Homo sapiens: one gene and its partner. The protein of the gene in region 1 purifies or fractionates together with the protein of each later gene. This does not show direct contact. Each region holds a gene or a part of one and is shown in the gene's direction. Other genes may lie near its edges.

Region 1 (7,025 bases):
GAGTGTATCAGTGTGTTCTTGTGTTGTTTTAAAGAAATACCTGAGACTGGGTAATTTATAAAGAGAGGAGGTTTAATTGGCTCACGGTTCTGCGGGCTGCACAGGAAACATGGCATCGGCATCTGCTTGGCTTCTGGGGAGGCCTCAGGGGGCTGTGGCTCATGGTGGAAGGCGGAGGAGAGCAGGTATCTCACATGGCAGAGCAGGAGCAAGAGGGAGAGAGTCAGGGGGAGGTGCCACACCCTTTTAAACGACCAGATCTCATGAGGACTCACTATCATGAAGACAGCACCAAGCCATGAAGTCACCATCATGAAGACAACATCCGCCCCTGTGATCCAGACACCTCCCACGAGGCCTCACCTCCAGCACTGGGGATTACAGTTCGACATGAGATTTGGGAGGGGACCACCACCCACACTCTGTCACCCGGCCTTGGCATTTAAGCTTCTGATGCATTTCAGGTGTGCGATGGGAGTCCTGACCATACCCACCACTCAGGACAGACAGTTCCAGCACATGGGCAACAACTCGTGTGTGGCTGGTGTGCGTCCTTATGCTGAGGAGGGGTGCGTGAGCTGGCACACTTGTGACGGTCGATTCTCAGGATCTCTTTCTTTTTTCTGTCCTTTCTCATGTCCCACCCTAGAGTCAGATGGAGTTCAGTATCTCCGCCCTATCCATCCAGGAGCCGAGCAACGGCACCGCCGCCAGCGAGCCCAGACCACTGTCCAAAGCTTCCCAGGGCTCCCAGGCCCTCAAGTCCTCCCAAGGCAGCAGGTCCTCCAGCCTGGACGCCCTGGGCCCCACCAGGAAGGAGGAGGAAGCGTCATTCTGGAAGATCAATGCTGAGCGGTCCCGAGGGGAGGGGCCTGAGGCCGAGTTCCAGTCGCTGACCCCTAGCCAGATCAAGTCCATGGAGAAGGGGGAAAAGGTCTTGCCTCCCTGCTACCGGCAGGAACCTGCCCCGAAGGACAGGGAGGCCAAGGTGGAAAGGCCCAGCACCCTCCGTCAGGAGCAGCGTCCTCTTCCCAACGTGAGCACCGAACGTGAGAGACCCCAGCCTGTCCAGGCCTTCAGCAGTGCACTGCACGAGGCTGCCCCCTCCCAGCTCGAGGGGAAGCTGCCATCTCCTGATGTCAGGCAGGACGATGGGGAAGACACCCTGTTCTCGGAACCCAAGTTTGCACAGGTGAGTGGCCTTTACCAGCGCGTCCTCAGATGGGATGGTGCCTTATTCCACGGGAACCGAGAGGGTCCCCCACAAAGCAGGCAGGCCACAGGTGCCCATGCTCTTTTTCTTCTCCTTCCCCTGCCTCTTCCTCAGAGGATGCCTAGGCTCAGGGTGCTGAGCCACCAACAAATATGCAACAAGACAAGTTTTGCGAGTCCATCTGGGTGCCCTAATTTGTTTACCAGTCAGGGTTCCGTGGCCCACTGCGCTTTCCCCAGTGCGCGGGCTGCTATCAGAAGAGGCCCCTGGAAGGCGCTGCGCCCAGGGCTGTCACAGCTCAAAGCTGTGTTGGGCCTTCTTTTTGGGAGCTGTCCATAGAGGCAATGGTCTGTTCTTTAGGACTGGTCTGGATTTGGGCCAGGGGAGCTGCCTGTTGGCAAAGCAGGCAGGCACACTTGAGAGGCCTCACTGGGTCTTGCCCCTCTGTGGGCCTCGCTGGGCTCCTGGCTGCCTTGCTGAGGAGTGAGCCCAGGATGCAGTTGCCTCCATGGTAGCCTCACCCATCCTCCTCTGGCCCTTGAGACTCCTTGGTTCTTGTGGGTCACTCTTTTTTTTTTTAATTTTTATTTTTTAAATTTTTTATTTCCATAGGTTTTGGGTGGTATTTGGTGACATAAGTTCTTTAGTGGTGATGTGTGAGATTTTGGTGCACCCATCACCCGAGCAGTGGACACTGAACCCAATTTGTAGTTTTTTATCCCTCACCCACCTCCCACTCTTTCCCCGAGTCCCCAAAGTCCATTGTGTCATTCTTATGCCTTTGCATCCTCATAGCTTAGCTCCCACTTATGAGTGAGAACATATGATGTTTGATTTTCCATTCCTGAGTTACTTCACTTAGAATAATAGTCTCCAATTACATCCAGGTCGCTGCAGATGCCATTAATTCATTCCTTTTTTGGCTGAGTAGTATTCCATCGTATATATATACCACAGTTTCTTTATCCACTCATTGATTGGTGGGCATTTGGGCTGGTTCCATATACTGAATTTTAAAAGTTTTTATTATGGTAAAATATACAAACATTTACCATTTTAACCATTTTACAGTATAAATTTGGTGGCATTTCAGTACATTCTCAATGCTGTGTAACCATCACTACCATCCATCTCCAGAACTCCTTTCATCCTGCAGAACTAAAGCTCTGGACCCGTTCAACACTAACTTCTCATTCATCCCTCCCCGCAAGCTCCTGGCAACCACCATTCCACTTTCTGTGTCTGTGAATTTGACTCCTCTAGGTACCTCATATAAGTAGCACCATATAGTATTTACCCTTTTGTGACTGACTTACTTTACTTAATGTGACGTCTTCAAGGCTCATTCATGTTGTAGCAAGTGTAGAATTGCCTTCTAAGGCTAATATTCCATCGTGTGGTTAGACCACATTTTGTGTATCCACTCATCCATCGACAGACACTTGGGTTGCTTCCACCTTCTGGCTATTGTTGTCTGTTAGGAATAGTGCTGCTGTGAACGTGTATGTACAAATAAGTCTTCCAGCCCCTGCTTTCCCTTCTCCTGGGTGCATACCCAGATGTAGAATTGCTGGATCACATGGTGGTTCTATTTCTACTTTTTTGAAGAACCTGCATACTGTTCGCCACAGCAGCTGCGTCATTTTACATTCCCATCAATGTGGGTTCGCGTTTCTCCACTCCCTTGCAACACTTGTTATTTTCTGTGTCTTTGCTGGTGCCATGCGAAGGGGTATGAGGTGGTGTCTCACCGTGGTTTAGACTTGCCTGTCCATGATCGTGAATGATGTTGAGCCTCATTTCATGTGCTTATTGGCCATCTGTGTATCTTCTTTGGAGAAATGTCCAATGGTCCCTTGCCCATTTTTAAATTTTTGGTTATTTTGTTGTTGAGTTGAGATCATCACTGATAACATTGAATGTCCCCCAGAGCAGGTTTCCAGTACTTCCACACCTCCCTCGGCAGATGGCTGCACGTGCTGTCCTCCCGAGGAGGGAGGATCCAGCGGTGCTAGTACCTTCTGCCCACCTCGGCTCCACATCAGTGCTCTAGCCTGTCCTCTTCGTGTTTCTGCACCTTCTTAAGCTAGTGCTTTCAGCCCTCTTGTTTCCTGCCTTCTCCGGTACCTGCCCATCTCTCCGTTCTGTTTTCTGTCTCACATCCTCCTGCCCATCAGCTCCTCCTTACAGACAGGCTCAGTTCCCTGCCTCCCTAACCAGCACTCTTTCTCTGAGACTCGGCACTGAGGGCTTCCTCTGAAAGAAGTATTTCCATAAAATAGGTGATAGTCCCCACTCTAAAGAGAAGCAGGAACGTGTTTCTGTGTGGGCAGTGGAGAGTAGGAGACAGCACATGAAATTCCTTTGAGAGAACAGATTTCTGAGTAAAGCACAGTGAAATGCCACTGCATTTAAGAAACTGGAAGGAAACCAGAACAAGGAAAACTGGATTGCACTCCTTCCATTCTGCATGTTTTGCCTCACTCTGCACCAGTCTCACATGTAGCCAAACTGGGCCTGAGACAGGTGTCAAGGGCAAGCCCATTAGCCCATTGCCTGCTCTTGCCGCCATGTATGCATTTTCTGCTGGCCGGCTGCTTGGAGGGTGGAGAGTCAAGGTTTCTTTGCTCAAGAAGACCTTGGCGCACCAGGTAAATGCCTGCCGGTGTTAGGCTGGAGGAAAGGGACATCAGAAACAGGCTGCTGAGTGGAAGCCAGTCAGAAGTTTTATGAAAACAGCAGCAGCTTGAGACAGCCCATGCTCACAAGAGGGGACCTGTCAGTTAAGCCCTTTCCCCTGAAAGAAGAATGACATTAAACCAGGCCTTGTGGTGCACGCCTGGTGCATGCCTGTAGTCCCAGCTACGTGGGAGGCCGAGGCAAGAGGATCGCTTGAGCCCCGGAGGCTGAGCTTAGAGTTTGGGAAAATCACTTCATAACCTTTCACAAGATCTGAAAGAAATAAGCTTCACATTCTTTCCACACTATGTTTACTTTCTCAACTTTACAAGTTCTTTTTTGTTGTGTTTGTGTGTGATGTTTGTTTTATATTTGAAGGAATATCTTTATCATTTGTTCTCTTATTTAGGATGAATAAATTTAAACATGGCTGTCATTCAGAAACAGAAAAGATTTATAGAAAAATACAGAGACATTGTTCTTTTCTCTGTAAGGTCTGTAAGCTGCTCACAGACATGCCTGGGGTTGAAGAGGGGTTAGTGTTGGATGCTGGCAGAGTATAGATTGCATTGAACTGTATTTAATCTTCTGATTTCAAGCACTGAGATAAATTGAGGTCAGGGAACCTCTGAGACAGAAGTAGGCTCTTTTATCTGGGTCGTTTTAAATGAGATGCTGTTTTTAGATTATACGTAACTGAAAAAAAGAGGCTCGTCTTACTTCCATGTTTTTGTCCCTTCTACAGGTCAGCTCAAGTAATGTCGTCTTGAAGACGGGATTTGATTTTCTGGACAATTGGTAAAATGTATTAGAAAAATACAATGAAGAACCCTAAAATGTTTTCCAAAGTGGTGTGGTGGAGGAGGATAAAAAGGGCCACCTTTTCCTATGTATTTTACTGGTTTCTTGACACTCTTTTCTTAATCATTTGGAAACTGGTCAATATTGCCAGATTTTTTTCTTTTTTGGTAGAACCAGATATATATGCTATTTTCAGTGATTTGATAACAGAAGTTTTCCATTTGGAATTTTTAAGGTCTGTTAATAATTCAGGAGATCTTGTAAATAAAACTTCTGTTCCCAGCTCCACCCAACTTTCCCCCTCCTCAAAGGATGTGTTTCAACCATGTCACAAAAATCATATAAGTGATTTCCATCTCCTTCTCCATTATTCCCCCTCCCCCCTCCGCTTTTTACCGTATGGGTTCCTTTTGGTGGGTGATTGAGGGTGATGTTATCAGCCATGACATCAGCATGCTGGCTGTGACCCCGGAAAGACTGGCCCCCAGCGACGTTCTCAGCCAGCGCTCGCAGCTGTCCGGGGCTTCTCTGGCAGAAGCCATGTCTCTCACATCATGTGCCAGCCTCCACCCTCACGCCATTTCCAGGGAACAGACTGCGGGTATGTAGCAGTGTAGTCTTTAACCTGCTCTGATACATATTCAGAGTATGGATTGTTGTTTAAAAAGAGTTGCATGTTTAAAGAGTTTTGTACTAGCTTTTCATTATTTTGTATCTAGATTATCAACAATGGGGCTACCACTTTCCTTGGTTTTATATCCATTTCCTCTTGGAAGTTCTTGTTGCTTATGTGACCTGTTGGTTGTTCCCCGGACTGGGCACCTACAGGAGTCAGGGCAGACGGCAGATGTGGCTGGAGGTCAGGGCTCTTCTGCTTAGTTGTGTTAGAGTCTTCCAGCATGGGACTGATGGGAGCAGTGGGCATTCTTTATCCCAAGGGCTAGCCAGGTTGCGTCATGACGGACCTTCCCCAGCCCTGACCACCACCAGAAGTGGAAGAGTGGAGTTTGCGGTCAACTCAGCAGTGCCCATGGAGACCTGCGTGGTGTCAGAGCAGCAGTATCTCTTGGAGCTGGTGCAGACACCAAGGCTGCCCAGTGGTACAACGTGGTCCACCTCCCCTAGGGAAGCTGCTGCACTCAGAGGCTGTCCTGCCCAGTGGCCCCTGAGCCGTGTGAGCCTGCAGGAGGCGTCTGAGCAGAGCCTCAAGCCCGGTATGGCGCCATCTCCATGTTGCCATCACTGCGTTCTCACCTGAAGCCTTAATCTTTGCGACACCTGCCAGTGAGCGCTCGGTTTCAATACCAAAGTGTGTCTTCTTCTTTTTTTTTTTTTTTTAAATGCCTGTTTCATAGGACCTTCTGAAATGATTTCCAGAATATTTTATCTGGCTCCAAAATAAAGCACATAGCAACTCACCTCAACCCCTCATCATCTCCAGGAAAGTTTCTGCCAAAGCTGTGGCATAGCCAACTTTTGATTTGGTTCTTGCCAATTGTTTTATGTCCCTAAACCTCATTTGGATCCTTGGGGTATAGTTTTATCTTTCTGCTTCAGTGATTTACTGTAACTTTTCAAATATTGGTTCTTTCTGTACCATTTAAGTATAGTTGATATATGTGAGGCAAAAAAAGGTTTCAGCATGGTGGTGAGGGAAAAAGGAGCTTAGAAATCCCAGTTGGCACAGCCTGGGCAAGCGCCAGCTCCCCTCAGGGCTAACGGCACTGTTCACACAGGGATCCTCAGAATCAGCGGCCACCTGCCTCCACCTTCTGCCTGGAGGGCATGGGGCTGTTGTAGAACCTATGGTAGCAAATGTATATGTATGAGTTTGTATTCTGTAGTGTTGGTGTAGCACAGAAGAAAGACCTGTGTCCTAGAGAGTAGGCCAAGGTGATCTGCCTCTTCTATTGGGAGAAATTCTAATTTCTTTCCCACTTTCTCAACAAGCCCAATATTCCCTCCAAGTTCTTCTTGGTGCTGAGGGCTGTAGGAATTATTGAAAGCTTCTGCCTCACTTAGTATCGTCTGGGGCCCAGCACCCAGCAATAACTCTAATAATGTTTCTTAATGGTATAGCCTCCTGAGATTAAATGTAAAATCAAAAATTAGGAAATCTTGGAGGGAGTCCTCAAGTTGTATTGCTTTGCTGTGCTTTTGGAAGAAGGGACGACCTGGAGGACACAGGCTCCTGTGTGGGTCTTCATCCTGCCTGACCGGCAGATCTTCCTCTACACCTTGGGCAAAGTCTATGCGAAGATGGTTTCTTAGCTCTCCATTTGCCATGATTTTCCTCCCATTCATCATGAGGGAGTTTCTCAAACCAGGAGTT
Region 2 (7,049 bases), on another chromosome or scaffold:
GGTGATACTGATGTTGCTGGTCTGGGGATTGTACTTTAAGATAATTAAGTCAGGGACTGTTGCCTGACATAGGACAATAAGCTTCTCTCAGGAATTTGAAATTTGGAACAAAGAGCTCGGAGTCTTAGTGCTAGTAGACCAGTGCTCTGGAGAGGTCTGAAAACTACCACTGCTTAGGTTCCTAGTTTGTCCAGTTCCTGTTTGTCTTGAGCCTTGGTTGTCTAATCCTTTGAATAAATCCCATTACATTCTTTGTTTTGCATAAACTGGCCATAGAAAGTTCTTGTTGTCTGCCCCTAAAAGAACTTTAACTAAAGTGTGAGTATGTCAGTTAAAGTGTTCCACCAAAAAAACAGAAACGATTCTAAGTAGTATTTAAAACAGAGATAATGTGGTCCAGAGAATTGGCCATACTGTGATAGAAGATCTGTGAAGCCAAACACCCAACGCAGAGATTAGCAACAGCAGGAAGCTATCTCTACCGCTAGGCAAGAGGGACAAAGGGAGAAGGTGGTGTTACAAGGCCAGGGTGACCTGGAAGAAGCTGGAACCATGACAGACCAGTCCAACAAGGAAAATGCTGCTGCCACTGCCAGAAACATCACCCAATGCACCTCTGAGGAAGTGAAGAAATTCCCTAGCTTCTCTCTTCCTCCTGCCTACAATCCCCCAGCAGTGCCTCTCCATGCTGGGAAGCTTGGGAAAAGCTCCCTATGTTACTGAGGACAGCAGGGGATCCTGAGGAAGAACATATAGATCTGAGAACAAGTCAAGGACTGGCACTGTTCAACCCTGAATTTCTCATTTTAGTCTTCAAAGTACATTTTGCCTACTTACCAATTAGAGTGAGATAATATGTGCATGCTATATTCTTTCTAATAGTCTCTGTTAAGAATAAGAATTTTTAATTTAAATGGGTTTTTATTACCTTGTTCCATAATTAGGCCTGACATTTCTGAGATAATCTTTTGGGAAAAATTGCAAATGATATCAAGAACTAACATTTGTATAGTGCTTTTCAGTTTGAAAAATATTTTTACATGCTTCATTTAATTTAATCCTCAAAAACCTCATGAAATATATATTATTATTAACCCTATTTTATAAATAAGGAAACTGAGGCTCAGAGAGAATAAATAACACAAATATGCAAAGTAACATGGATCACAAATAATGGAATGGCACAATCCCAAACCTGGGCTTAGCATACAACCTTGATTGTTGCAAAACACCAAGCTATTGCATGAAAGTACACGCAAGGCTACACACTTTCATTTCTTTCTCTCTGTTGATAACTCATTTCCTCCTTTATCTAAAATCCAGTATCTAGAGTAAAACCTTATAACCAGCACTGAGAGAGGTGATTTTAAAAGATCATCAAAATGCTTCGTGGTGCCTTCTCCTCATCCCCTACCTGTATAGACTGTCAAATCTGTTCTTAGTGGTCTCACAGGTTCCTAATTAATAGGCCACGATTATGGGATGAGGCAGGGCTTTTCATAAGGTCTTCAGAACAGCAGCAGTTATGTAAAATGAAAAGATAGAAAGTAAAGAAACCCATTTTGACTGAGAATATCAATTAGCTAGACAGAGTGGGTGTTTTTGATGATTTATGAGACTACTTGGCCACCTAGAAAAAATTAAATGCAAACATACACAATGATTGTGTATGAAAGTGAGTGAGAGAGAGTGTGTGTGTGAGTTTCCTTCTGTCTCCAAAGAAGTGGTTAAGCCTCCTCTGCTGCTAGTTCTACAGACTGTATTTCTCATGTTAAAGAGCCATCTTTGTTTCCCTTGGTTACCAATGAAACTGTGCAGGGATCAGTTCAAATCCATCACCACTTGCAGATAATTTTTCCAAACACAATGCCCTCTTTCTACATCTATTATCTATATTTATAGCTATTAGATAGGAAGAGCAGTTCACATGTGCATTTCTCCACATTTATGTGCTTACAGTCTATTGTGTATGCTGTCCTTTATATGGAGATGACTATGTCACATGGCACATCCCTATAATATTGTTAAAGAGAATGGAATTTTTGTTTTCAGACAGACTGCATCTTCTCCTTCATTACTGAAGAGCCAAGAGAACTTGTTGTAAGGTGATTTCTCCATTAAAATTACTCCTCAGAGTGTGCCTCAGTAACATACTTTTATCTACAAGGATAAGCCCTGTCTTAACAGAAAGGCTCCACATTCAATTTATTGACTCAATAAATTTCAGGCTCACTGATTATGTTTCAGTCTAAAAGCTTTACACAGTTATAAAATTAGAAGAGCCTTTAGAATCATCCCAGGTCAAGTTTCTCTCTGAATATTTTTCCACCATGAACTGCGTTACATTAAGTCTACCCATTAGTTAGAATATCAGTGATTATATCCTTGATCTGATGGCCAGGGGAAAATTTATATTGTCAGAGTTCATTTTAGATAATATTTGAAATGGAAGAAGTAGCTGAGGACAGAAGAGCAACATTCAAAGCTATCTTCTTTCGGGGGAGAAAAGTGGGTCTTGTCTATAAAGAACAGGCTTGTTAAAAGAACATCAGAATTCATCGCTAAACATCTCTCTGAGCAAAACAAAGCATTTCCTCTCCCCTGAGATCCTCAACTAATTTCATAAATATTTTTTCACTTGAACCCAACTTAGTGTTGCAGAATGAAAGGAGAAAATAAATGATAAGAGTTCCACCAACACTTCAGTAGGGAGTTGTCTGAAATCTTAATTGTGAACCTTTTTTTCACAAGATGCACAGTCTTCTAGAGATTTTGCTAGTGGAACGGGTGTGTGAGCTGATCATTATATGGAATTGAGACACATCAAATGCCATTAAAATTTACATTTACAACTCGAGTAACTAAATGCATTGATTCTTTTCATATTAAAAGACACTTGGTATTCACTGAATAATGAAAAATGCCACGGAAAAAATTATGTATTAACAATACAACCTGCCTAAAGGGTCAGAATTCTGCTACACACCTTTTGCTTACCTTTAAATAAATATTTAGGTGTGTTAAGAGCAGGGCAATTCTTGAACGGCACGATGTTGTTTGGTTTAATGTCTTTATAAAAATATTTGAAAAGGTATGGAAAATGAGGTGAGAGTGTTGTGGATTTAAAAACATGTGTATACATAGATACACAATTATTAAAACTTTAGACAAGGACGTTTTCTTCCTGGGAGTGGAGAGCCACCAGCGCGGGAAGTCTGCTGCAGGGATGAACAAAAGCATGGCTGCACGATAGTATTATCTTTGCAGCAGCAGCAGGCGCCCTGACGGAGGGTTGCGGCGACTGTCTAGTCTATCACACCGCACTTCTGGTAGTGACAACCTCCGTTATTCTGTCAGCTCAGCCGACTAAGTGGTTCCCCGCGTTCTGCCTGGTCACCTTGTCTCCGTTAAACGGGAAGCAGAAAAGAGAAAGGTGAATTGAGGGGGTACAAGGAGATTCCTCCGCCTTGGGACCGGCGTCGCCCCATCCTCTGGAAGTGTTGAGCGGGGAGAATTCGAGGACCGTATTTAACCCAGAAAACAGTAAGCCCTCTGAATTAGCTGCTACGCCTGGGGAAGGCAGAAAAGTCTTAATCGTCCCTTCCCAGCAGGGACCAAGAAAGACCAGTTAGAGCGAGCCTGGCCGGACCACGCGAGCCCCGGACCTCTCCGATCCTTCAGAGCCCGCGCCGGGCAAAGTAGAGGTCAAGTCAACACACACGACCGCAGGGCAGCCCTCCCACTCTCCCGTGCGGTCCGCAGCTCGGCTTCGGAACGACCACCGCTAACACTGCAAGGCTGTAAGGCTGGGAGGGGGCGGGTCCTGAAGGGGGCGGGAATAAGAGGCGGGGCAGAAGGGCGGAGGAGTGTGTCGGGAGATGTAGTTCCGCGAGTCCCGACAGCAAAGCTGTCCCGGCTCCGCTAATAGATTGGGACCACTACTCCCAGGAGTCTGCGCGCCCGACCGGAGCGTCCATGCGCAGTGGGAGCCACTTTGTATCCTATCAGGCGAGGAGAGGGTGATGTCACCTGCGAGTTAGTAACCTACGAGCGGCTGTGAAGGAAACTGTTTAACCGGATCCCATTGTACCCAGAGTGCAGAGCCGCCTTTCCAGCATGCAGGGGCTGCTCAGGTAAGGGGGACGCTCCTCCTTGCCCGCCGCACTCATTCATTAAGTGGCACTGCTCAGTGGTGCGGGGGTGGGCGTGCTTCCGTGGGCTGGGCGCTGGGTTCGCGGCGCGCCCTCCTGCTGCCTCCCCGGAGCTCCCGGGCCAGTAGGTAAATATTAAACCCGTCCTTCAGGTTGGGTCTGGGTGGGAACGGGACCGAGACAGCTCTCGGCTGCCTAGCTGGGGGTGGGAAAATGGCTGCAGCGCAACGCAAACCGAGGCAGCAGGGAGGAAGACGCCCCCAAGGACTGGGGTCCCTCCCTTTCTTTCTAAGGCGCCCGGCTGGCCGAGGAGCTGGCGGGGTAACACTCGCCGCCTTGCTGAAGGCTCCCCGGGGCTGGGGCCGCGGGTACTGCAGCGGCGTCCGCGAGCTCCCGGCCCGGCGGCTCCGAGAGGGAGAACCCCGAGGCAGGCTTGGTGGACACGGCGGTGGCGACAGGGAAGGAGGGACTCGTGTACCCGTTCGCGTCCGAGCAGAGCCCCCAGTGCCCCTGGCACCCTCACTTCCAGCCCCATTCGAAAGGGACGGAGCGCCTGTAATTCAGACTAAGTTGGACCTAAATGTTTCAAAACAGAGAGAAGGGAAATCGGGCGTTGCGGAGGGAGAGCAGGGTGTTGGCGGCCGGGGAGGCTGCGCCGCCTGCGGACCCGGTTGTGAGGCACCGCAGAGGGCTTTTGCCGCCCGTCCCTCTCGGGAGGGCGCATCTCAGTCTCCACGGTCCCTTGGTGTAGAGCACCTGGGCTGGGGCGAAGCGCCTGCCCTGAAGCCCTGGGCCAGGAGGTGGTAGCGCGGGGGTGGAGGTGTCGGATAATCTAATGATTAGGCTCGCTGTGGGGCAGGAGGGCTGGATAATCGGGTTTACCCAGCTGGTTCTGAAAGCCAACTGCTTGTGATCGGCTTGCCCTCTGAGTGGAGACGTGCAGGAGGCCCAGAGCTCTCAGTCCTCTGGATGTTCTTTGCCTTTCCTAGTACCTTCATTTGTTCGTTTACTCATTCATCAAACCCTGCTAAGGTCTCAAGTTGTTCACGGCCTGGCTTTGCGGAGCTACCTCTCGCCCCATAACATATTTAGTGATGCCTGAACTCCATTCCCCTCTCCTTCATCTCCACTTTCTGGAGAGCATCAAGAGCAAATGCCACCGTGACCGTTTTGCTGGTAGTTTCTTGAGATTCGAGCAGGACCCAGTGAATCGAAGCGGAGTTGCCTGCAAGATGAATCCCGTTGCCATGGCGACTCCTGCCTTCGGAATCTTAGCCGCTGCCACTGCTGTTTCGATTCGATGTGGCTCTGCGGGCAGCTGGGAGGGAGTGGCTAGTGGGTGTGGTCAAACGCTCGCCCTGGCCCAGCTGCTCTCTCCTCCTCGCCCCTTTCACAGCCCCGGGACTCTCCCCTTTCTCTCCTAAATAGCTTGGACACAGTTCTAAACCCCTTTCCCTTCCCCGTGCCACACCTCATCACGCCACCTCTCTCCCTGAAACTAATTGTTTGGCGCCTTTTTCCTGAGGCAAACTCTGAAAATTATAATTTGAAAAATCTCTTCCCCCTTTCGGGCTAGCCGCATCATTTCCCCAATAAGGTAGTTTATGGTGTTGGAGGCAGCTTTGTCATGAAAGGCGCCCTCCCCTGTTGTGCATAAAGAGAGCTCTCTGGTCACCAGCAAAGGCCCTCAATTTGCTCTAGGTGCAGCTGATTGGAAGTGATTAGGGACAATTAATAACGGCTGGAAGACACTGCAGTCCCTTGTGGTTCTCATAAAATCTAAAGCCAGGCTAGAGGGCGCAGGTCCTTGAGGGTGAAGCATGCAGGGCCATAACCAGGAGCCTTGGGTCCTACTCTGGCTCTGTCAGTCACTGGCTACTCCACGTTGGGATTAACCCTTTACCTCTGGGAACCTCAGTCTTCTCTTTGGTAATGTGAGGAAAGGGTAGAGAGGGTTTCCTAACGTTAATTCTAGGCGCAATGGCCTATGATTCCAAGATAGACTTGGTCATTGTCCTTTTTCGTCCCCGACCCCAAAGTAATCTGAAGTTAAGGGTTTAAACTTGGCTTCTGATACTGTGCCGTCAGGTTATATGGACAAGGCAGCTATGTGACTATTTATAATACTGTTTATACTACCACTACTATTATTCCAGTATCTGGACCCTTCTAATTATACTTTAGTATTATAACTAATTGTTTAGGTTTTGCCTTTTTATAGATTCCTAATGAATGCAGTTATTTGTAATTGCATTAAGTGTAATTGACATATAAATATTTTGTTTCCCCTCTGCTTGCATTTTATACCAATGTGCATTATCACAGATGTTGCAATTATGGGGGAAAGTGTGTATATGAGAGTGTCTGTGCATGTGTATCCATAGTCAGGTAAATGCTTGGGATTGCTGTGTGCTTGGTGGTTGACACTTACGATCTTATTTTAAGTAGGTAGCTACATCCCCATGAGGAAACAGGATCAGAAGTTGTCACTTTTTTCCTGGAACTTACCATTAAATGAAAATTTCCTTCATTCTTCTGCTTGTCTACCCTACTAGATTATAAGCTCCTTGAGGGCAGTGTCTTTGTTTTGTCCTTTTCTGTCCCCCCAGCATTTAGAGCAGTTTGTTCATTTGTAGGTCTTTAATAAATATATGTTAAACGAATATTAAGTAGCAGAACTATGATTGGAGATCCAAGGTCTATTATTTCCACTGATAGTTCTGTCATCCGTGGTAATATTCCCCTTAGCTTTTCTATCAAGCAGTTTCATTTCATCATAAACCAAAACTTGTCTGGCATAAAAGGCCTTCTATGTATTTGAAATAGACATATTTCCTAATTATTTGCTTTTAGAATACATTCACTCACATCGACTGTTTCTTTGTAGTTACAATTTCT

Evidence for each region. The genes of interacting proteins can lie anywhere in the genome.
Region 2: the proteins of C1orf198 (region 1) and DAAM1 purify together in Homo sapiens (co-immunoprecipitation; 2 studies listed by BioGRID and IntAct, with this or other methods). This does not show direct contact.

What each region holds. Positions count from the first base shown.
Region 1 is NC_000001.11:230,837,521-230,844,545, reverse strand, and holds part of C1orf198 (uncharacterized protein C1orf198), read left to right. Parts: intron 1-649; coding exon 650-1,192; intron 1,193-4,637; coding exon 4,638-4,694; 3' UTR 4,695-7,025.
Region 2 is NC_000014.9:59,184,636-59,191,684, forward strand, and holds the start of DAAM1 (disheveled-associated activator of morphogenesis 1), read left to right. Parts: upstream 1-4,031; 5' UTR 4,032-4,133; exon of another isoform or gene 4,134-4,279; intron 4,280-7,049. UniProt on the Homo sapiens protein: Binds to disheveled (Dvl) and Rho, and mediates Wnt-induced Dvl-Rho complex formation. May play a role as a scaffolding protein to recruit Rho-GDP and Rho-GEF, thereby enhancing Rho-GTP formation. Can direct nucleation and elongation of new actin filaments.